4 separate regions of the Homo sapiens genome follow, and all the other regions are linked to region 1. The links come from fine-mapping of genetic effects on gene expression. A gene starts in region 1. Each other region holds a variant in brackets. All regions are shown on one strand. Distances are between the middles of the regions.

Region 1 (6,175 bases):
AAAGTGACAAAATTATAGAAATGGAGAACAGATTAGTGGTTGCCAGGGGTTAAGGAATTGGTGAGGTAGAAGGGAGGTGAGTGTAGCTATCAAAGTGCAAGTTGAGGGATCCTTGTGGAGATGGAAAATGTTCTGGATCTTGACTGTACCAATGTCAATATCCTGTTGTGATAGTGTACCATCATTGCAAGTGTACACAATGTGATAATGTGCCACATTGCAAGATATGACCACGAGGGGAAACTGGGTAAAGGTTACATGGGATCCTTCCGTATTATTTCTTAAAACTGGTGACTCATGCCTGTAGTCCCAGCTACTCAGAAGGCTGAGGTGGGAGGATCACTGAAGCCCAGGTCGAGGCTGCAATGGGCCACTGCACTCCAGCCTGGGCAACAGAGTGAGACCTTATCTCAAAAAAAAAAAAAGTTGAATTTTCAAAAATAATATGTAATTATATCCACAAAGATAACAATACTTAACACTTAGGAGTCAACAGCAAAAACCAGAAATTACCCTTGGTAGGTTAGGCAGAAAGGAATGTAATACAGGGAATTAGATCACCACAAAATTGTCGAAAGGCCTGGAGGAGTAACATCTAGGCTGATCTTCTGGGTACAACTGCTAAATCAAGCACCACAGTATGGACACACCAAGGAAGTATCTACCTCCACGACCTGGAAGCCAGGAACCAACCAGGAGGCCACGGTACTGTCAGCCCCAGGGACCTATCAACGCAGCCACAATCCATGATAACAAAATGAATGCTCTGTACCCTCCCACAGACCCATGAGGTAGTAGCTAAGTGGGAAGCGGAAAATCCAAACCCCTCTGTGTCCTTCCCCTCACTTTCCCCTTCCAAATCTCCCAGTCACGTGCCTGGCTAAAGCCAAGTCACGTTTACAACCAAACTACAGTGGGGTCTGGGAAAGGTAGTCTTTAGCTTTTTAACCTCCAGATGTAGATTCTTTTGCCCTTCTGTCAGGGAGATGACAAGTAGTGAAAAAGCAAGCAAAACAGCAAGAAGTAATAGGTCTGCATATTCCAGAAACAAAAAGGTCCTAAGGTAACTTCATGATCCAAAGATGAATATCCAAATGTCCATCAATATTGGTAACCAAATAAACATTAAATTAAACAATACGATAGCATATTAACTTCTCAAATTAGAAAATACCAGTGTTGCTGAGAGTATAGAGAAATAAGCAAAAATTTTGCATACTCTTTATTCTAGAAATGGTACCTTTCAGGAATTAAACGTCCATACCTATAATAAATATTTGGTTACAAGGATATTTATGTTACTTACAATAGCAAAAAAAAGAACCTAAATACCAAGAAGAGGGACTGTCTAAACTATGGTACATCCATATACTGAAAAACTGTAACCATTAAGAATGATGTTGAAGAAGACTGAATGATAAGGAAAAAAAGTTATGATTTCCCAAAAAAATGTACATGAAACTCCATTTTTCACCTTCCCCCTCCACCAGAAAGTAAAAGAAATTATACAGGATAGAGAACATGTTAACAGTAAGGAGATTATGGAGATTAATATTTATTTTCTTTATGCATAGGCTATTTCCCTGAATGTTTTACTGAAAATACGTACTACTTCTGTAACCAAACGAAAAAAAAGTAGTAAGAATTTTTTTAACCAACTCATGAAGAATAGTTTCTCATAACACTAGTTTATTCTGGTAAACAGAAATAGAAATTACAAGTTATAATATTCAGTAGCCATTCCTTTGACTCTGCTTTTCTATTTTCCTTCTCCACTACCAATTTATCCAAGTTGCCACATTTGCCTACTTAATTCTGAATTTACTCACTCCATTCCATCCACTCAAACTTGCAACCTCTTGTCTCCTCATTTTCACTAAAACACTTGCCCATATGTACGTTTCTCCTGGCATATTATCCACAGCTAAGTATCAACTGGCACACTTTTCTGAGCCCTCTCTCACACAAGTTCTTAAAGAACCATTCCCAACACTTGCAAGGAAATAGGCAAACCCACAAACATAAACTTTCGTTAAGATAAAGTCAAACATAAAAAGACCAGTCTACAAGCTCATACTTAAAACTGGATACATACTCCTTACAGCCACACATTCTTACAGACTCAGGGAATCAAGGAGAGAGGTCTTTCTCTTTCATGTCAGCGTCCTCTCCATTCAACTTCATCTTTCAGTCTTCTAAGCTGAACACAGAATTGCACCTTTTGTTTCATTCCTAGAATGACAAACCTTACTCTTTCGTGGTACTGAGCACTTAAATAAATTAGTTTATACTTTTAAATGCACTCTCACTAGTCTAAAACTCTAGGTAGGAAGGGTCCCTATTTGTTTTGCTCATCTTTGTAGCCAATGCCTAAGAATACGCTCCCAGTAGCATTCAATAAGTAATGAATAAACGACTGTATTATTACTGATGCATGATTCTGTCAATACAGTCAAAGCACACACTACGTTCCCAACTTATAAGTAAGGAAAACGAGGCTGGGGCGGTTCAGCGGCGAGTCAGCGCAGACCCAGGAGGAGAGCGGGGTCTCGGAGCTGCAGGAAGTACGGTCAGCCATGCAGCGGCAGGGCTGGGGGGCATGCAAGGTTCGCGCTTTGCAGACTCTCCGTAAGGGCTAGTGTCAATAAATCGAGTTACGTGCGGTGGTGAGCGGACAAGCTAAGTTGGCATATAGTACGTGGTTCAGTCAGTATTTATGAATGACTCAAGACACAAAAATAGCTTCATAAACAGTGCTTTGCTTGAGTTTGTCCGCTCACTACCGCACGTAACTCGATCCGGAGAATTAATCCGTGGCGAATTCTCCAATAACTGCGCGCGCACAGTAAACGGAGAAGCTGAAGCTGGGAGATGAGTTGATCGTTTTACAGAAGCAACCAATAAACTCCCCAGGCCGGGACCCAAACCCACCGGAACAGCAACTGGAAACCTACATCCTTGGTGCACCAGGCCGTCCAACTCTTCAGCGGAGGCCTGCAGGTGGCGCTGATCTCACCACGTTTCCCCTCCACAGGCCAGGGGCCAGGCCTGGCTACCGGGCCCGCGACCTCATTCATCTGGCGTCCGCCGGCCCCGCGCGCCGCGCAGGCGGGGGCCGTGGCCACCAAGCCCGGGCGCAGTTTCTCTCCGCCCACGGCAGGAGCGAAGGAAGGCCCTGGCGCGAGCGGGTAAACTGCCCACCGGGCGGCCCACCCGCTGCGCCCCCGGCCCGCAAGAGGCAGTCCCAATAGGTTGGCCCGCCTGGCCGAAGTCCGCCCGGAGCCCGCTCACCTGTCAGCCCCCACTGCCGTAAGTCCTGCTCCTGCACCCGCGCCGCCTCGGCTCGGCCCTCAGTATGAAGCCGCAGTAAGAAGCCAGGGGCTTGGCCCCCGCGGCTAGTAGCGCCCGCGCGCTCCATCGGGCCGGTAGAGGCCCCGCCCCGCGCGGCCAAGCGCGCACCTCCCTCCCAACTTCCCAACGCGCGGGGGCGCGCGACTGCGCGCTGGGGCCCACCTACGAGCGAGGCGCCGCCAGAGGGCGCGTCCTGCCAAGATATCCGGAGCGGAGCTGGTGCAGTCACCCTTCCGGACAGGCAGTTCTTGCAGTGCGGAGCGTGGAAGGGCTGCCCAGTTCTCACCAGTCGTGCTTCTGAAGCGCTAGGCGTCTGATCACGCACAGGACGTCTGATTGCCTGAACTGCCCGTCAAGGAGGTGGCATGTGTTCATCATTCATTTATTATTTAATCAACATCGACTATCATGTGTCAGACACTCCGCTGGGCCCTGGGGGTTCTAGAAGTAAGACTTGTTCCGTGCCCTCCAGTGATTCACGATAAGATCAAACTGTTCTTGTTCGGTTTACCTAGTGATAAATTGATTTAGTCCCTGAAATCCCTTTCTTACTGCCTGTGACCTGTAGGCCAAAATTGGGAACCTCTGAATAGTAGTAAATTAAAATCACCAAAGACGTCATTGTGGCAGTGGGTATCTCAAGTGCATTATGGGGAGCAGATTGAGGCAATGTGTTCAGTTAGGGGTCACCGTGACTCAGCATCAGCTTTGAGTGGATTTATGATGTAGTATACCACTAATATAAATATGATAATAACAAAATAGCTGCATTTATTGATGAAGTTCTGGGTGGTGTCCTAAGGGCTTTAAGTATATTTTCTTATTTAACCTTCACAATAACCAATAATTAGGTGTTATAATTGTCCCCACATTGTAAATGAAGATATTGGGACTTGTAATGGTAATTGGCAGTACTGGAACAGGAACGATATTATTCTCTGGCTAATGTCATTAGAATAGTATTCTCATTTAGGTTAATCTTGGTGCTTCCTTCTTCAGTAAACTCATGTTAAATTTGTACCCTCCATTCTCATCTTCCTCTAAAATAAAAGGGAGAAATTTGTTCTGAGCTAGAAAAGGGATGACTTCAGATTGGTTTATTCATAAAAACTCAAGCAAAGCACTGTTTTATGAAGCTATTTTTGTGTCTTGAGTCATTCATAAATACTGACTTTCATGCGCGTCCGTGTGAAGAGACCACCAAACAGGCTTTGTGTGAGCAATAAAGCTGTTTATTTCACCTGGGTGCAGGTGGGCTGAGTCCGAAAAGAGTCAGCGAAGGGAGATAGGGGTGGGGTCGTTTTATAAGATTTGGGTAGGTAAAGGAAAATTACAGTCAAAGGGGGTTTGTTCTGTGGCGGGCAGGAGTGAGAGGTCACAAGGTGCTCGGTAGGGGAGCTTTTTGAGCCAGGATGAACCAGGAAAAGGACTTTCACAAGGTAATGTCATTACTTAAGGCAAAGACGGGCCATTTAAACTTCTTTTGTGGTGGAATGTCATCAGTTAAGGCAGGAACCAGCCATCTGGATGTGTACGTGCAGGTCACAGGGGATATGATGGCTTAGCTTGGGCTCAGAGGCCTGACACTGACTGAATTACATACTATGTGCCAAGCACTCTATGGTACTGAAGATAGAGGCCACTTATCTCCTGGATCTTACATTTTAAAAGGAGGAGACAAGCAATAAATAAAAATCAGGTAGTGAAGGGGTGGCCTGCCCCTCCACACTTGTGGGTATTTCTCGTCGGGTGGAATGAGAGACTTAAGAAAAAAAAGAGACACAGAGACAAAGTATAGAGAAAGAAAAGTGGGCCCAGGGAACCGGCGCTCAGCATACAGAGGACCTGCGCTGGCACCAGCCTCAGTTCCCTTAGTATTTATTGATCATTATCGGGCATTTCTCAGAGAGTGGGATGTGGCAGGACAATAGGGTAATAGTGGAGAGACGGTCAGCATGAAAACATGTGAACAAATGTCTCTGCATCATAAACAAGGTAAAGAAAAAAGTCCTGTGCTTTTGATGTGCATACACATAAACATCTCAATGCCTTAAAGAGCAGTATTGCTGCCCACATGTCCCACCTCCAGGCCTAAGGTGGTTTTCTCCTATCTCAGTCAATGGAATATACAATCGGGTTTTACACCGAGACATTCCATTGCCCAGGGATGAGCAGGAGACAGATGCCTTCCTCTTATCTCAACTGCAAAGAGGCCTTCCTTTCTCTTTTACTAATCCTCCTCAGCACAGACCCTTTATGGGTGTCAGGCTGGGGGACGGTCAGGTCTTTCCCTTCCCACAAGGCCATATTTCAGGCTATCACATGGGGAGAAACCTTGGACAATAACTGGCTTTCCTAGGCAGAGGTCCCTGCGGCCTTCCGCAGTGTATTGTGTCTCTGGGTACTTGAGATTAGGGAGTGGACTCTTAACAAGCATGCTGCCTTCAAGCATTTGTTTAACAAAGCACATCCTGCACAGCCCTGAATCCATTTAACCTTGAGTGGACACAGCCCATGTTTCAGGGAGCACAGGGTTGGGGGTAGGGTTACAGATTAACAGCATCTCAAGGCAGAAGAATTTTTCTTAGAACAGACCAAAATGGAGTCTCTTATTTCTACTTCTTTCTACACAGACACAGTAGCAGTCTGAGCTCTCTTTCTTTTCCCCACAAGGTAGGATTAATGCTAAGACAAAAGTAAAACACAATCGCATAATGGGGCAATAGTAATTTTGTACAGCAGCTTTCCTGCTTGGGTGTTTTCTCAAAACAAACCTGAAGAGAGATTTATATCCTTTGGTGGCTTCTCCAGAGGGACCTCTGTC
Region 2 (6,175 bases), 230 kb after region 1:
GGTTTTTATGGTTTTACATCTAACATTTAAGTCTTTAATCCACCTTGAATTAATTTTTGTATAAGATGTAAGGAAGGGATCCAGTTTCAGCTTTCAGCATATGGCTAGCCAGTTTTCCCAGCACCATTTGTTAAATAGGGAATCCTTTCCGCATTTCTTGTTTTTGTCAGGTTTGTCAAAGATCAGATAGTTGTAGATGTGTGGTGTTATTTCTAAGGGCTCTGTTCTGTTCCATTGGTCTGTATCTCCGTTTTGGTACCAGTACCATGCTGTTTTGTTTACTGTAGCCTTGTAGTATAGTTTAAAGTCAGGTAGTGTGATGCCTCCAGCTTTGTTCTTTTGGCTTAGGATTGACTTGGCAATGTGGGCTCTTTTTTGGTTACATATGAACTTTAAAGTAGTTTTTTCTAATTCTTTGAAGAAAGTCATTGGTAGCTTGATGGGGATGGCATTGAATCTATAAATTACCTTGGGCAGTATGGCCATTTTCACGATATTGTTTATTCCTCTCCATGAGCATGGAATGTTCTTCCATTTGTTTGTGTCCTCTTTTATTTCCTTGAACAGTGGTTTGTAGTTCTCCTTGAAGAGTTCCTTCACATCCCTTGTAAGTTGTATTCCCAGGTATTTTATTCTCTTTGAAGCAATTGTGAATGGGAGTTCACTCATGATTTGGCTCTCTGTTTGTCTGTTATTGGTGTATAAGAATGCTTGTGATTTTTGCACATTGATTTTGTATCCTGAGACTTTGGTGAAGTTGCTTATCAGCTTAAGGAGATTTTGGGCTGAGGTGATGGGGGGTTCTAGTTATACAGTCATGTCATCTGCAAACAGGGACAATTTGACTTCCTCTTTTCCTAATTGAGGAAAAGGCTCTATTTCTTTCTCCTGCCTGATTGCCCTGGCCAGGACTTCCAACACTATGTTGAATAGGAGTGGTGGGAGAGGGCATCCCTGTCTTGTGCCAGTTTTCAAAGGGAATGCTTCCAGTTTTTGCCTATTCAGTATGATATTCGCTGTGGGTTTGTCATAAATAGCTCTCAATATTTTTAGATACGTCCCATCAATACCTAATTTATTGAGAGTTTTTAGCATGAAGGGCTGTTGAATTTTGTCGAAGGCCTTTTCGGCCTCCATTGAAATACTCATGGTTTTTGTCGTTGGTTCTGTTTATATGCTGGATTACGTTTATTGATTTGTGTATGTTGAACCAGCCTTGCATCCCAGGGATGAAGCCCACTTGATCATGGTGGATAAGCTTTTTGATGTGTTGCTGGATTCGGTTTGCCAGTATTTTATTGAGGATTTTTGCATCGATGTTCATCAGGGATATTGGTCTAAAATTCTCCTTTTTTGTTTTGTCTCTGCCAGGCTTTGGTATCAGGATGATGCTGGCCTCATAAAATGAGTTAGGGAGGATTCTCTCTTTTTCTATTGATGGGAATAGTTTCAGAAGGAATGATATCAGCTCCTCCTTGTACCTCTGATTGAATTCGGCTGTGAATCCATCTGGTCCTGGACTTTTTTTGGTTGGTAAGCTATTAATTATTGCCTGAATTTCAGATCCTGTTATTGGTCTATTCAGAGATTCAACTTCTTCCTGGTTTAGTCTTGCGAGGGTTTATGTGTCAAGGAATTTATCCATTTCTTCTAGATTTTCTTGTTTATTTGCATAGAGATGTTTATAGTATTCTCTGAAGGTAGTTTGTATTTCTGTGGGATCAGTGGTGATATCCCCTTTATCATTTTTTATTGCATCTATGTGATTCTGCTCTCTTTTCTTCTTTATTAGTCTTGCTAGCGGTCTATAAATTTTGTTGATCTTTTCAAAAAACCAGCTCCTGGATTCATTGATTTTTTGAAGGGATTTTTGTGTCTCTATATCCTTCAGCTCTGCTCTGATCTTAGTTATTTCTTGCTTTCTGCTAGCTTTTGAATGTGTTTTCTCTTGCTTCTCTACTTCTTTTAATGGTGATGTTAGGGTGTCAATTTTAGATCTTTCGTGCTTTCTCTTGTGGGCATTTATTGCTATAAATTTCCCTCTACACACTACTTTAAATGTGTCCCAGAGATTCTGGTTTGTTGTGTCTTTGTTCCCGTGGGTTCCAAAGAACCTCTTTATTTCTGCCTTCATTTCATTATTTACCCAGTAGTCATTCAGGAGCAGGTTGTTCAGTTTCCATGTAGTTGAGTGGTTTTGATTGAGTTTCTTAATCCTGAGTTCTAGTTTGATTGCACTGTGGTCTGAGAGACAGTTTGTTATAATTTCTGTTCTTTTACATTTTCTGAGGAGTGCTTTTCTTCCAAGTATGTGGTCAATTTTGGAATAGGTGCAGTGTGGTGCTGAGAATAATGTATATTCTGTTGATTTGTGGTGGAGAGTTCTGTAGATGTCTATTAGGTCCACTTGGTACAGAGCTGAATTCAATTCCTGGATATCCTTGTTAACTTTCTGTCTTGTTGATCTGTCTAATGTTGACAGTGGGGTGTTAAAGTCTCCCATTATTATTGTGTGGGAGTCTAAGCCTCTTTGTAGGTCTCTAAGGATTTGCATTACGAATCTGGGTGCTCCTGTATTGGGTGCATATATATTTAGGATAGTTAGCTCTTCTTGTTGAATTGATCCCTTTACCATTATGTAGTGGCCTTCTTTGTCTCTTTTGATCTTTGTTGGTTTAAAGTCTGTTTTTTCACAGACTAGGATTGCAACCCCTGCCTTTTTTTGTTTTCCATTTGCTTGGTAGATCTTCCTCCATCCCTTTATTTTGAGCCTGTATGTTTCTCTGCATGTGAGATGGGTTTCCTGAATACAGCACACTGAAGGGTCTTGACTCTTTATCCAATATGCCAGTCTGTGTCTTTTAATTGGAGCATTTAGTCCATTTACATTTAATGTTAATATTGTTATGTGTGAATTTGATCCTGTCATTATGATGTTAGCTGGTTATTTTGTTCATTAGTTGATGCAGTTTCTTCCTAGCATCGATGGTCTTTACAATTTGGCATGTTTTTGCAGTGGCTGGTACTAGTTGTTCCTTTCCATATTTAGTGCTTCCTTCAGGAGCTCTTTTAGGGCAGGCCTGGTGGTGACAAAATTTCTCAGCATTTTCTTGTCTGTAAAGTATTTTATTTCTCCTTCACTTATGAAGCTTCATTTGGCTGGATATGAAATTCTGTGTTGAAAATTCTTTTCTTTAAGATTGTCGAATATTAGCCCCCACTCCCTCCTGGCTTGTAGAGTTTCTGCCAAGAGATCAGCTGTTAGTCTGATGGGCTTCCCTTTGTGGGTATCCCGACCTTTCTCTCTGGCTGCCCTTAACATTTTTTCCTTCATTTCAACTTTGGTGAATCTGACAATTATGTGTCTTGGAGTTGCTCTTTTCGGGGAGTATCTTTGTGGCGTTCTCTGTATTTCCTGAATTTGAATGTTGGCCTGCCTTGCTAGATTGGGGAAGTTCTCCTGGATAATATCCTGCAGAGCGTTTTCCAACTTGATTCCATTCTCTCTGTCACTTTCAGTACAGCTATCAAATGTAGATTTGGTCTTTTTACATAGTCCCATATTTATTGGAGTCTTTGTTCATTTCTTTTTA[C/T]TCTTTTTTCTCTAATCTTGTCTTCTCGCTTTATTTCATTAATTTGATCTTCAATCACTGATATTCTTTATTCTGCTTGATTGAATTGGCTATTGAATCTTGTTTATGCTTCACGAGGTTCTCATACTGTGGTTTTCAGCTCCTTCAGGTCACTTAAGCTCTTCTCTACACTGTTTATTCTAGTTAGCCATTCATCTAACCTTTTTTCAAGGTTTTCAGCTTCCTTGTGATGGGTTAGAACATGCTCCTTTAGCCCGGAGAAGTTTGTTATTACCGACCTTCTGAAGCCTGCTTCTGTCACCTCATCAAACTAATTCTCCATCCAGTTTTGTTCCCTTGCTGGTGAGGACTTGTGTTCCTTTGGAGGAGAAGAGGTGTTCTGGTTTTTGGAATTTTCAGCCTTTCTGCTCTGGTTTCTCCCCATCTTTGTGGTTTTATGTACTACTTTGGTCTTTGATGTTGGTGACCTACAGATGGGGTTTTAGTGTGGATGTCCTTTTTGTTGATGTTGATGCTATTCCTTTCTGTTTGTTAATCCTTCTAACCAGGCAGGTCCCTCAGCTGCAGGTCTGTTGGAATTTGCTGGAGGTCCACTCCAGACCCTGTTTGCCCAGCTATCACCAGCAGAGGCTGCAGAATAGCAAATATTGCTGCCTGATCCTTCCTCTGGAAGCTTTGTCCCAGAGGGGCACCCACCTGTATAAGGTGTCTGTCGGCCCCTACTGGGAGGTGTCTCCCAGTTAGGCTACATGGTGGTCAGAGACCCACTTGAGGAGGCTGCCTGTCCATTATCAGAGCTCAAATGCCATGCTGGGAGAACTACTGCTGTCTTTAGGGCTGTCAGGCAAAGACGTTTAAGTCTGCAGAAGGTGTCTGCTGCCTTTTATTCAGATATGCCCTGCCCCCAGAGGTGGAATCTAGAGGCAGTAGGCCTTGCTGAGCTGCAGTGGGCTCTACCCAGTTTGAGCTTCCCTACCACTTTATTTACACTGTGACCATAGAACCACATACTCAAGCCTCAGCAGTGGCAGAACCCCCTCCCCCTGCCATGTTCCAGTGCCACAGGTTGATCTCAGACTGCTGTGCTAGCAGCAGGCAAGGCTCCATGGGCATGGGACCTGCCGAGCCAGGCACAAGAGGGAATCTCCTGGTCTGTCGGTTGCAAAGACAGTGGAAAAAAGCACAGTATTTGGGCAGGGGTGTACTGCTCCTCGAGGTACAGTCACTCACATCTTCCCTTGGCTAGGAAAAAGAAATCCCCCAACCCCTTGCACTTCTCGGGTGAGGCAACACCCCACCCTGCTTTGGCTCATCCTCCATGGGCTGCATACACTGTCCAACGAGTCCCAGTGAGATGAACGAGGTACCTCAGTTGGAAATGCAGAAATCACCTGTCTTCTGCGTCTATCTCACTTGAAGCTGTAGACCGGAGCTGTTCCTATTCAGCCATCTTGGAAGCAACCCTCTTTTTCTTTTTGTATTTTGGTAGAGACAGGGTTTCACCATATTGCCCAGGCTGGTTTCAAACTCCTGAGGTCAAGCCATTCTATAAAACAAACTTATATTTGTTTTATCTGAGTTCCTTCCTCAGGAAAGGACTCTCAGGCCTCTCAAAAAGCATCAGAGACCTGAAACTCAGCCAATCACAGCATCCAGACAATGAGATGCCAGTCCCCTCACTCATCACGAGTGCTTCCTCACCCCTCCCTAGTTCCTCTTTTCCTACACACAGTTAACTTTTCTTCTGCGCTATATAAACCCCTAACTTTAGTCAATCAGGGAGACAGATTTAAGACTCATCTCCTGTCTACTCAGCTGCAGCACCTGATTAAAGCCTTCTTCCTCAGCAATACTCAATGTCTCAATGATTGTCTTTCTGTGTGCTGAGAACACTGAAGCCCTGGGGTTTTGGTAAAAATACATGTACACTTTTAAAAACCCCAATTAATGGGTTGTGGTATATTGAGAAATTGGAGTGGCGTCAACTTGGCCAATTCTGAGGAAACACACTGTGCTTAAGTGTCAGGGCCCTGCCTCCTGACCTCGACAGTTTATGGTTGATTTTGAGGCACAGCAGGGGAGTATGGCCTGGTTTGAGTGTTTTATAGAAATGTAAAACATGGCTGATTACTTTTTATTTTAAATCCAACAAATTCTCCATTTCTGGTGAGAAAATCTTGCCAAAACCAACCAAACAAATGCATAGAAGTATATGAAGAAGAAAATGAAAGATTCCCTGCCTCCGAATCCCACTTGCTTGGTGTCAGCCATTATTTATCACATGGAGGATGGGGGCAAGACACCCAGGAAGTCCCAAGTCCTGTTCTCACAATCATCTGGCCTCCCTGGGCAAAGGGAAAAGAGGGAAGGCAAAAAGAATATAACACTACTGTTTGCGGAAATTTCCCCTTGGTACAGGAAACTCTGGTAAACTGAGAGAGTATGTTTTCCAGAGGGAGGCCTCAAGGGCTCTTCTCTGGCCCTAAGCCCAAACTGGATTTTGCCTCATTTTCTGAGGTGCAAATGAAATGATAAAAGTTGATCAAAGGAGAGGGCAGAGAGAAAGAAAGAGGATGAATCCT
Region 3 (6,175 bases), 200 kb before region 1:
AAATCAAAATCGTATTTGATGTAGTGCTTCATACATACCAGGATGGTTATAATAAAAGGCAGACATAACAATAAGTATTGGTGAGGATTTAGAGAAATTAGAAACCCCATCCACTGTTTTTAGTAATGTAAAACAGTGCCACTGCTTTGAAAACTGTCTGGAAGTTCTTTAAAAAGTTAAACATAGATTTACCATATGATCCAACACTTCTTTTCCTAGCTGTACACCCAGGATATATAAAAATATTTGTCTACCAAAAATTCGTACATAAATTTTTATAGGAGCATTATTCATAAAAAGTTAAAATAACCAAAATGTCTATCGAGTGATAAATGGGTTAATAAAATCTGGTATATCTATATGATGGAAATTATTTAGCAGTAGGAAGGAATGAAGTACTGATACATGCTGTCATGTTGATGAAACTTGAAAACATTATATCAAGTGAGAGACGCTAGACATACCCGGCACATATTATATGATTTCCTTTATATGAAACATCCAGAATAGCAATATCCAAAAACACAGAAACAGATTAGTGGTTGTTTAGAGCTACAAAATTGGGGGCAAATAGGGAGTGACTGCTATTTTTTGGGACTGGATAATTAAAATGGGATGACACAGAGAAAGTGGCTGATTGGGTTGGGTTTACACAGAATGAATGTGGCTGTCAGTGCTGTGTGTGTCCCAGAATTGACCAGCCCACACATCCAAAACCCAGTCACCAAACAGAACTTTTCACTCATTAGGAGCTTATATTGAAGAGGGTGGCAAATGGCCACACAGTGGTCATAAGCCATGGCAGCCAGCAAGACACCCTCAGTGCTGGCTCATGATGCAAGGAAAAAGATCTGGGAAAGGCAGCCTTCGTAGGAGATGATCTTCTTCTCCTGGAAGAAGTTCACCAGCATGACCAGGATGATGGTAGACATGTAGCAGATATCCAGGAAGCTCAGGTTACTGAGGAGATAATACAGTGGAATGTGGAGGGCTAAATCTGGTGGCCACCATTATGAGCATATTCTCCCAGAGTGTCAGGTAAATGACCAGAAAGACCAGGAAGAACAAACCTTGTAGGTTGGAGTGGTTGGAAAATACCCAAAAGATGAATTTGGTGACATATGTTTGATTGCTTATTTCAAGTGGTGTCACAGCTACAAAACAAAGAAGAAAGAAACCATACAGAGCCTTGCTCTGTCGCCAGGCTGGAGTGCAGTGGCACAATCTCGGCTCACTGCAACCTCCGCCTCCCAGGTTCAAGCAATTCTCCTGCATCAGCCTCCCGAGTAGCTGGGACTACAGGCGCGTGCCACCATGCCTGGCTAATTTTTGTATTTTTAGTAGAGATGAGGCTTCACCATTTTGGCCAGGATGGTCTCGATCTCCTGACCTTGTGATCTGCCTGCCTTGGCCTCCCAAAGTGCTGGGATTACAGGCATGAGCCACTGTGCCTGGCAAGTAATAAAACAAATTTTATTACAAAAATTTAAGAACATGCAGAAAGCTATAAATAATTCAGTCATCTGCAGAATCAGTCAATACTACCTTTCAGTGTATTTCATTGTAGTTTTTTTTGTTTTACGTAAATCTTGATCTCTATAGCTTTAAAATATTAACAATTTTTCCAGATTGGAAAAGAAGAACTAAAACTACCTCTATACAAGTATGGCATGATCATATATAGAGAAAATATCAAATAATCTTCTGGAAAACTACTAGCCCTAATAAGCAAATTCAGCAAAGTTGCTCACACAACAATCAGTTGTGTGTTTGTATACTAGCAATAGCAATTCAAAAAAGAAATTAAGACACCAATTCTACTTACAGTACACAAAAGAATTAGGTAGTTAGAATAAATCTTACGAAGGAGGTGAAGAACTTGTACTCTGAAAACTACGAAACATTGTTGAAATAAATTAAAGAAAAACCTAAATAAATGGAAATATGTCTTAAGTTCATTGATAGAAAGACTTAACTTTGTTATCACTACTACCCAAAGTGATCTACAGATTCAATGAAATCCATATCATATTCCAGCAGCCATTTTCATAGAAATGTAAAAGCCCCTCCTCAAATTTGTATGGAATTGCAAGGGGCCCTGGATAGCCAAAATAACCTTGAAAAGGAAGAATAAAGTTAGAGGACTCATACTTCCTGGCTTTGAAACTTACAATAACGATACACTAAACTGAAACAGTATGGTACTGTAATAAGAACAGTCATAGACTGATGGGATAGACCAGAGAGCTCAGAAATCAACCTCCACATATATGGTTAATTGATTTTCTTATTTATTTATTTATTTATTATACTTTAAGTTGTAGGGTACATGTGCACAACATGCAGGTTTGTTACATATGTATACATTTGCCATGTTGGTGCGCTGCACCCATCAACTCACCATTTACATTAGGTATATCTCCTAATGCTATCCCTCCCTCCTTCCCCTACCTCACAACAGGCCCCAGAGTGTGATGTTCCCCTTCCTGTGTCCAAGTGTTCTCATTGTTCCATTCCCACCTATGAGTGAGAACGTGGTGTTTGGTTTTTTGTCCTTGTGATAATTTGCTGAGAATGATAGTTTCCAGCTTCATCCATGTCCCTACAAAGGACATGAACTCATCATTTTTTATGGCTGCATAGTATTCCATGGTGTATATATGCCACATTTTCTTAATCCAGTCTATCATTGATGAACATTTGGGTTGGTTCCAAGTCTTTGCTATTGTGAATAGTGCTGCAATAAATGTACATGTGTCTTTAGAGCAGCATGATTTATAATCCTTTGGGTATATACCCAGTAATGGGATGTCTGGGTCCAGTGGTATTTCTAGTTCTAGATCCTTGAGGAATCACCGCACTGACTTCCACAATGGTTGAACTAGTTTACAGTCCCACCAACAGTGTAAAAGTGTTCCTATTTCTCCACATCCTCTCCAGCACCTGTTCTTTCCTGACTTTTTAATGATCGCCATTCTAACTGGTGTGAGATGGTATCTCATTGTGGTTTTGATTTGCATTTCTCTGATGGCCAGTGATGATGAGCATTTTTTCATGTGTCTGTTGGCTGCATAAATGTCTTGAGAAGTGTCTGTTCATATCCTTCGTCCACTTGTTGATGGGGTTGTTTTTTTCTTGTAAATTTGTTTGAGTTC[T/A]TTGTAGATTCTGGATATTAGCCCTTTGTCAGATGAGTAGCTTGCAAAAATTTTCTCCCATTTTTTAGGTTGCCTGTTCACACTGATGGTAGTTTCTTTTGCTGTGCAGAAGCTCTTTAGTTTAATTAGATCTCATTTGTCAATTTTGGCTTTTGTTGCCATTGCTTTTGGTGTTTTAGACATGAAGTCCTTGCCCATGCCTATGTCCTGAATGGTATTGCCTAGGTTTTCTTCTAGGATTTTTATAGTTTTAGGTCTAACATTTAAGTCTTTAATCCATTGTGAATTGAGTTTTGTATAAGGTGTAAGGAAGGGATCCAGTTTCAGCTTTCTACATATGGCTAGCCAGTTTTCCCAGCACCATTTATTGAGTAGGGAATCCTTTCTCCATTTCTTGTTTTTGTCAGGTTTTCAAAGATCAGATGGTTTTAAATGTGTGGTATTATTTCTGAGTGCTCTGTTCTGTTCCATTGGTCTGTATCTCTGTTTTGGTACCAGTACCATGCTGTTTTGGTTACTGTAGCCTTGTAGTATAGTTTGAAGTCAGGTAGCGTGATGCCTCCAGCTTTGTTCTTTTGGCTTAGGATTGACTTGGCAATGTGGGCTCTTTTTTGGTTCCATATAAACTTTAAAATAGTTTTTTCCAATTCTGTGAAGAAAGTCATTGGTAGCTTGATGGGGATGGCATTGAATTTATAAATTACCTTGGGCAGTATGGCCATTTTCACGATATTGATTCTTCCTATCCAGGAGCATGGAATGTTCTTCCGTTTGTTTGTGTCCTCTTTTATTTCGTTGAGCAGTGGTTTGTAGTTATCCTTGAAGAGGTCCTTCACATCCCTTGGTTAATTGATTTTAAACATGCATGTCAAGTCTATTCAATGGGGAAAGAACAGTTTTTCCAGAAAATGGTCCTAAGAAAACTATATATCCACATGCAAGAGAATGAAGTGGGGCCCTTAACTTACACTATATACAAAATTAACTCAAAATTGATCAAAGACCTAAATATAAGAGCTAAAACTGTCAAAGTCTCAGAAAAAAATTGGGGACAATCTTCATGTCATTGGATTTGAATTTGGATTATTATTTCATAGAAATAACACCAAAAGTACAGACAACAAAAGAAAAAGTAGGTAACATTTACTTCGTTGAAATTAAGAAAGTGTCATCCAAAGGATGCCATCAATAAAGTGAAAAGACAATCTGTAGAATGGAAGAAAATATCTGCAAATCAGAAATCTAGTAATGCATTAATATTCATAATATAAAGAACTCCTACAACTCAACAACAGTAATAAAAACCAACCAATTCAAATGTGGACACTGGACATAGACATTTCTCCTGAGAAGATATACAAATAAGGGCCTGAAAAGATGCTCAACACCATTAGTCATTAGGAAAATGCAAGTCAACACTACAATGAGATACTAGTTTTTATTTACTAAAATGGCTATAATAAAGAAAATGGAAAATAACAAATGTTGGCAACAATGTGGAGAAATTTTAACCCTCGTGAATTGCTGATGTTAATATAAGATGGTGCAGCTGCTTTAGAAAACATTTTGACAGTTCCTCAAAAAGTTAAACATAGAACTACCATATGATCCAGCAATTCTACTCCTAGGAATACATCTGAAAGAATTGAAAGCAGGTACTCAAACAGATGTTTGTACATCCCAGTTCATAGCATCCTTGTTCACAATTGCCAGAAATAACCCCAGTGTCCATCAGCAGATATAAAATGTGTATACATACAACGAATTGTTATTTAGCCATAAAAAGGAATGAAATTTTGATATATACTACAACGTGGATAGACCTTGAAGATATTATGCTAAGTAAAATAAGCCAGATATAGAAAGATAAATATTGTATTTGTACTCCACTTACATGAAATACCTGGAACACGCAAATTAATGGAGACGGAAAATAGAATAGAGGTTACCAGGGGCTTGAAGGTGAGTTGAAATGGGGAGTTACCGTTTAATAGGTACAGAGTTTATGTTGAGGACGATGAAAGAGTTTTGGTTATAGATAACAGTGATGGTTATACAATATTGTGAATGTATTTCATGCCATAAAATTGTACACTTATAAATGGTCAACTAATAAACATATGTATTTTACCACAATTAAAAATAAATGACAAAAAGTTATGAGCTTCATTTCTTAGGGATGCATTGTATTTCATTATATGAAATAAACTTCATATCTCCTTTTTGGTTAAACATTCAGGTTGTCTCCATTCCCTATGAATGCTGTAATTTCGCACATAAATGTGAGCATCTCTGATTATCTCTTCAGAATAAAAATTTAAGACTCTGTTTTGAAATATACTAATTTTTAAAAATCACTTGGGTCATTTATCTTTTCAGAGTTTAAAAGGTATAACAATTTTAAACATATGTACTTAGATATGTTACCTTATTAAATTGTATTAATCCAAGATTTATCCTCAGCCCAACATTACATATTTCTTGAAAAAAATTGATAGAATTACCCACTTTCTATTAAGCTATCCATTCTAATAAGCTCACAACCATTTTTATGAACTGTAATTTTCTCATCTTTTTCAATCTTAGAGAGGAGGTGATATGTTGGAAAGAGTGGGCTCTTGAATCAGATAGATGGGGATTTTTAAATCCTACTTCTACTGCTTACTAGGTGTAGATGGTGGATAAGTTAGCTGACTTCCTGGTTCTTCAGTTTGTTCATTGTATTCTGATATTATTCATGCCTATATCAGAGTTGTTGGAAGAAGTAATGTGATATAAAATAAATAATGTACCTGGTACTTCAGAGGTATTCAATCAACTGAAGCTGTCAATGCTATTATTTTGTAGTCCATGTAAAATATTTCAGGATAAAATATTTTGTTCGACTCTACCTTCCAAATTTTACAAATACTGTCATTTCTCACCACCATCACTAGTGATACCCCAGTCCAAGTCACCATTTTGTCTTGCCCAGACTCCTGCAACAGACATGAACAGGGACTTCACAAAATAATATATTT
Region 4 (6,175 bases), 120 kb after region 1:
CAAAAGACACATGAAAAAATGCTCACCATCACTGGCCATCAGAGAAATGCAAATCAAAACTGCAATGAGATATCATCTCACACCATTTAGAATTGCAATCATTAAAAAGGAAACAACAGGTGCTGGAGAGGATGTGGAAAAATAGGAACACTTTTACACTGTTGGTGGGACTGTAAACTAGTTCAACCATTGTGGAAGTCAGTGTGGCGATTCCTCAGGGATCTAGAACTAGAAATACCATTTGACCCAGCCATCCCATTACTGGGTATATACCCAAAGGATTATAAATCATGCTTCTATAAAGACACATGCACACATATGTTTATTGCGGCACTATTCACCATAGAAAAGACTTGGAACCAACCCAAATGTCCAACAATGATAGACTGGATTAAGAAAATGTGGCACATATACACCATGGAATACTATGCAGCCATAAAAAATGATGAGTTCATGTCCTTTGTAGGGACATGGATGAAATTGGAAATCATCATTCTCAGTAAAGTATTGCAAGGACAAAAAACCAAACACTGCATATTCTCACTCATAGGTGGGAATTGAACAATGAGAACACATGGACACAGGAAGGGGAACATCACACTCTGGGGACTGTTGTGGGGTGGGGGGAGGGGAGAGGGATAGCATTATGAGATATACCTAATGCTAAATGATGAGTTAACGGGTGCAGCACACCAGCGTGGCACATGTATACATACATAACTAACCTACACATTGTGCACATGTACCCTAAAACTTAAAGTATAATAATAATAAAAAAAAGAAAAAAAGGAAAATATAACCTGTTGGGAAACTGTTTCTGCCTTGTACACACAAGAAGCGAACAATGAGGATATGCTTAGTTGTATTGGGAAAGAGATGGATCTGTGGCATTGTCACAAAAGTACACAAATACTGAGAATGACTGCTGAACGAATGGTCCCCCTCAATGGTGACCCTCAGGTAAGACCAGGAGGTGTTGTATTTCAGCAAACCCTGGGCAATTGTAATGCAGGGTTCCTAAGATTCCATGACACTCCCACCTTCTAATTTTGTTATTGCAACTGCAGGCCATTACCTGGCACGCTGGCCACTAGCTGCCTCACTCTTATCAGAGCCTGAGCTACAGGCAGTGACTTTGGCTCAGATATCTGGCATCTCAAACTCTGTTTTTGTGGTTAAGGACTCTAAAGTGCTGTGGGGAGTGATCAAGTTTTTCTCAGCGGTAACAATTCCAGTTACTGTCATCCCTCAGTCCTGATTAAACCTATTTGATTTCACTAGTCTTCAACCCATTATGTGTTTGGGTTTCTTCTCCTTAGTCCCTGGCTCAACCTCTTCTGGCATAAATGTCAGCATGGCTGTATCTGCCAGCCTTTTGTTGAGTGAGAGGGCAGAGATGAACATCCTAGAAATCAACCAAGAATTGCGCTCGCAGCTGGCATAGAGCAAACAGCAGTTCTGAGACCTCAAAGAGAAATTTCTTATAACTCAAACTATTGCCTACTCCCTGGCCAACCAGCTGAAGAAGTACAGTAAATTCTATAGGCTCACTATACCAAAAATGATGAATGATCGCCCATCTTCTCCCTGAGAGATGAAATGCTCTCTTAATCAAAATTAATTTTATCCTTTCCATGCTTCTAGGAAAACAGAAGAGGATATTTTAACCTCATTTTTTAAAAGATGGAAAACAGAGGCACAAAGTATTCAGCAACTTTTCCATGTTTGCAATTTGGTGTGGGGTGGGACTAGAGTTAAAATACCAGTTATTGATTTCTGACATAGGAACAGAACCACCTGTTTTTCTCAGCAAGAGGCTAAATCATGTTTACAAGAATTCTCTCTGTACCATATAAGATCCTGCAGACAAGTAGCATCTAATCTGTGGCTCTACATATCTGGGACTAATGAATTTCCATTCAGTTCAGGCTGTTGAGGCCTGATAGGCAAAGTTCCATGCTGAGGACCCTGGTGGAAACGTGGTGATAGCACACAGTACCAACTCCAAGGAGCTTAAAGAGGAGTCTGCACCTAATAGAAATTGTGGTATCCATAAGTGACAGCATCAAGAGCAGGGAATACCCTGGTGACAGGGAAGTCTTGCTTCCTGGGGCACAGGTTGTTATTTCTCTCTCTTTTTTTTTTTGAGACAGAGTTTCACTCTTTCTTGTTGCCCAGGCTGGAGTGCAATGGCCCGATCTCGACTCACCACAACCTCTGCCTCCTGGGTTCAAGTGATTCTCCTGCCTCAGCCTCCCAAGTAGCTGAGATTACAGGCATGCACCACCACACCCAGCTAATTTTTGTATTTTTAATAGAAATGGGGTTTCTCCATGTTGGTCAGGCTGGTCTCGGACTTCTGACCTCAGGTGATCCGCCCGCCTCGGCCTCTCAAAGTGCTGGGATTACAGGCATGAGCCACCACACCTGGCTGAGGCTCTTATTTCTAAAGAGGAAAAAAGAGAGCCCCCAAGACTGTGTGGAGGTAGCAGTGTGTAAAGCAGGGACCCTGGGCTAGTTTCCTGGGCTCCATCCAAGTTGCTCATCTTCTCTGTGCCTTAGTTTCCTCATCTGTTCATGGGTATTATAATAATACCTACCTTGGTAAATTGCTACAATGAATTATACAACCTATTGCTTGTAAACCTCCTGGAACAGTTGTTGGCACAGAGTAAACACTATTAGTTCTTCATTCTACGGTTTCTAACTTAACAGGAACTTGATTAGTATTTGGGCATATTTCCTTCATGACCTTATGGTCTTATGCCTCATATTTTATGCAATTATATCCAGATATGATTTTTAAAATCTTGCACATATTGGTGCTTAAAATTCCCAGTTAAAAAAGAAATCAGTCCTGTGAACACACAAAATCTGTGACAGGTCTCAGTTAATTTAGAAAGTTTATTTTGCCAAGGTTGAGGACGCACGTGGGACACAGCCTCAGGAAGTCCTGACGACATGTGCCCAAGGTGGTCATGAGACATCAATTAATATATGTAAGAAGTGCATTTGTTCAGTCTGGAAAGGCGGGACAACTTGAAGCAAAGGCAGGAAGATCCAAATTATATGATTTCTGAGTACTCTAAGTGTAAGCAGAAATTAACACCAGCTGGTTGTTAAATGCTTATTTTAGTCGTTTAAAAGGAATTTGCAAGATACAATCCCAAACTAGTTTCTTAACTAGTGATTGGTCTCAGTCTGTAGACTGCTCTCTACCATCCTAGAAGAAGAGAAAACAACTCATCTTCCCTGTTGGAAGAAGCAAGCTCAAACTTCATAAAGGAGTTACCT[G/C]CATTCCATTGTCATGGAAGCAGGAAAATTTGCCTTCCTGTTGAAAGCAAGTAAAACTCCAAAAAAAGAAGAGTTGTACAGTAAAATAAACTTAAGATCTCAACCAAATTTGGGGAGATCAGGGATTCTCTGGAGGGGGTGCTGTCAGATCTCAGCAAATTATCCTATTGGCTTGAGCCATAAAGTTAGCTCATGCTGGTACCAAGCACTGACAGGAGATTTGTCAAAGGTCAGGGGCATCTCCACTCAGAATCCCCCCGTGGTGGTTACCAAAATGTGAACCCAACAAATCTGAGACAGGTCTCAGTTGATTTAGAAGGTTTATTTTGCCAAGGTTGAGGACGCACAAGGACACAGCCTCAGGAGGTCCTGACGACATGTACCCAAGGTGGTTGGGGCACGGCTTAGTTTTATACATTTAGGGAGACATGAGACATCAACCAATATATGTAAGAAGTAAATTGGTTCAGTCTGGAAAGACAGGAAATCTTGAAGGAAAGGCAGGAAAACTCAAAGTGGAGAGGGAGCTTCCATGGGAGGGAGCTTCCAGGTCACAGATGGGTGACACACAAATGGTTACATTATTTTGAGTATCTGATTAGCCTTTCCAAAGTAGTCAAATCAGATATACATCTATCTCAGTGAGCAGAGGAGTGATTGAATAGAATGGGAGGCAGGTTTGCCTTAAGCAGTTCCCAGCTTGAGTTTTCCTTAGTGATTTTGGAGGCCCAAGATATTTTCCTTTCACAGTCCCATAGTCCTAGAAGCCTTCCCAGCTGTACAGAAAATCACTACTTTATGCCCCAGTGCAGGAGAGGCTGCAAGGCTTGGGAAAGTGTCCCATGATTCAGAGTCAGACCTCAGGGGCTGTGAATTCTGACCCTACCTCATTCCAGGTGAATCATCTTGTCAAGTTGCTTGGTGGGCCCCTGAGCTTTTTTCCTATCTCTAAGTTGGGGAGTATCAGATGCCAGGAAGTGAGGAGACTGAAGAGTAAAGATGTGCAATCCCTGCCTAGAGCCTGGTACTGGGGACAGTTTTGTCCTTGGGATGGACCTGGCTCCTGCCCTGTAGGCAGTGACTGCAACAGCATGTCCAGCCTTCCACTGAGGCAGGTGTGTCTGTCTTTTCTCAGAGTGTGAAGAGTGCAAAGACCTCATAAAATCTAGGCTGAGGGATGAGCTGCAGTTCAAGGAGGAGAAGCTGGCAGAGAAGCTCAGGCAAGCTGGAAAGCTCAGGTGAGGGGGCCCCATTGGGGGCAGGCAGGTGGGCAGGAGTGTGAATCTCTGTGCAGCAGCTCAGCGGGGGAGAAGTAAGAGCTAAGCCGAGCCAGGGGAAGGGCAGGAATTGCCATGGCAGACACATGTCACACAAATATTTATAAAACAGAGAACAATAATAGTAATTTATGGGTTGCAGTTATTTCTCAGAGCCTCGTTTTCTCTTTTTCTAACAAGTAATTGTTGAGGTGAAATTTGCATAACACAAAATTAACCAAAGGAAAGTGAACTACCCAGCAGCATTCAGTATACTCAAGATGCTGTGCGATCACCACTGCATTTACTCTTAGTCAGAATCAACTCCTAACTGACTTGGGCTTCTCATTTCTTCAACCACTATTGCCTTCTTGACACTGTCATTCTTTTATTCTTTCATGTTTCCAGTTGTACCTGGCCACATTTCTGTGCACGGCTTTGTGTCCAGTCACTGAATAATGCACGATGTGTATTTGAACATGAAAATGTCCACAGGCAAAATGAGAAATTGAAGGAAAATCCTTTTGGAACTGATTTGGTTACAGAAGAAAAAGATGAATGGAATGTTGAAAAATCTTCCTGGAGCTCTCTCTCTCTATCGCAGTGGGGAAGACCTGTTTTTTTAAAAAAATACATTTTTCTTTCTCTTTGCAACAGGCATTTCCTTTAATATGTGCTGACTTTCTGCGTGGAGGGCTCCTTTGTTTCGATATTAGAACTGATCACTCATCTCTTTCCACTACTAAATTTTCTCTACTATCCCACCTTAGGCAATATAAAGTCTCTGTTCACTCCCAGGCCCGAGAGCCGGCCCAGTTACAGGACAAGTTACGGGAAGGGAGAGATGCCTTCCTCTTACTGAATCAGCATCTCAAGGCCCTCCTCACTCCTGATGATTCTGACAACTCCCAGGGGCAGGACCTCTGAGAGCAGGCTGGCTGAGCACCTTGTCCACAAGCTCAGCCCAGATAAGGAGACCACAGGCCCTGATGACACAAAACCCCAGGCTTGTGAGAGACTCTACACCTCCATACCTCCACAATGACAGTTACATAGGTGGTGTTTCTTTCCATTAAACATATGTGGCCATGACATGACCAGGATTTCCTGGGTAGGAACAGAGACAAGAAGTCCATGGGGTTAGAGGTCACAGTATTGCAAATGTCTCCTCCTCCTTGATAGTCACGTTCTTTGGAGCAAGAGGCCATATCCATTCAGTTTTAAAGGATAGGAAGGAGGCTGTGACAGGAGGCAACTTGTTAGAGTAAAAAGAGTCCTGGATTAAGAATGAAGTTTCCCAGGCTGTATCTTCAGCAATGTCCTTAGTAACCTTGGGTGAGTGATTGATTTATCCTTTCTGGATTTCTTTGTCTAAATCTCTACAGGGGTCAAAATGTCTCTTCAATGGTAGATACAGCATTCAAATATGGGAACACTTATGATTACATTTCAAAATAAGATGAAGCCCCTCACCGTGTGGTGTTGGAGAAGGCACTTGATGTGGGGGCATTTGGTGGTAGGAAGTGCTTCAGACTGGAGCACTCCCCATGGAGAGAATGTCCCTGAATAACACAGCAGAAGCCAACTTGGAGGGCTTGTGAAGTCTCCCAATGCATGGAGAAAGG

Evidence for each region. PIP is the estimated chance that this variant, and not a neighbour inherited with it, causes the effect. A credible set is the group of variants that fine-mapping cannot tell apart.
Region 2: its variant is the best candidate, but not a certain one, in a credible set for the expression of CHD1L in whole blood (TOPMed, PIP 0.54).
Region 3: its variant is the best candidate, but not a certain one, in a credible set for the expression of CHD1L in whole blood (TOPMed, PIP 0.89).
Region 4: its variant is the best candidate, but not a certain one, in a credible set for the expression of CHD1L in whole blood (INTERVAL, PIP 0.59).

What each region holds. Positions count from the first base shown.
Region 1 is chr1:147,239,947-147,246,121 of GRCh38, reverse strand. It overlaps CHD1L (chromodomain helicase DNA binding protein 1 like), which reads right to left and starts at 3,438. Exons shown (of 23, transcript NM_004284.6): 1 at 3,292-3,438. The coding sequence starts at 3,418. RefSeq lists a silencer at 2,987-3,606.
Region 2 is chr1:147,005,396-147,011,570 of GRCh38, reverse strand. No RefSeq gene overlaps it. Among named protein-coding and RNA genes, the nearest start is that of TRH-GTG1-2, 65 kb to the left of the region's middle. The variant C/T (reference allele first, on the strand shown) is at 3,594.
Region 3 is chr1:147,440,546-147,446,720 of GRCh38, reverse strand. All of the region lies in intron 3 of LINC00624 (long intergenic non-protein coding RNA 624), which reads left to right. It also overlaps the pseudogene OR13Z2P. Among named protein-coding and RNA genes, the nearest start is that of LINC00624, 74 kb to the left of the region's middle. The variant T/A (reference allele first, on the strand shown) is at 3,156.
Region 4 is chr1:147,119,430-147,125,604 of GRCh38, reverse strand. No RefSeq gene overlaps it. Among named protein-coding and RNA genes, the nearest start is that of RNVU1-8, 38 kb to the right of the region's middle. The variant G/C (reference allele first, on the strand shown) is at 3,295.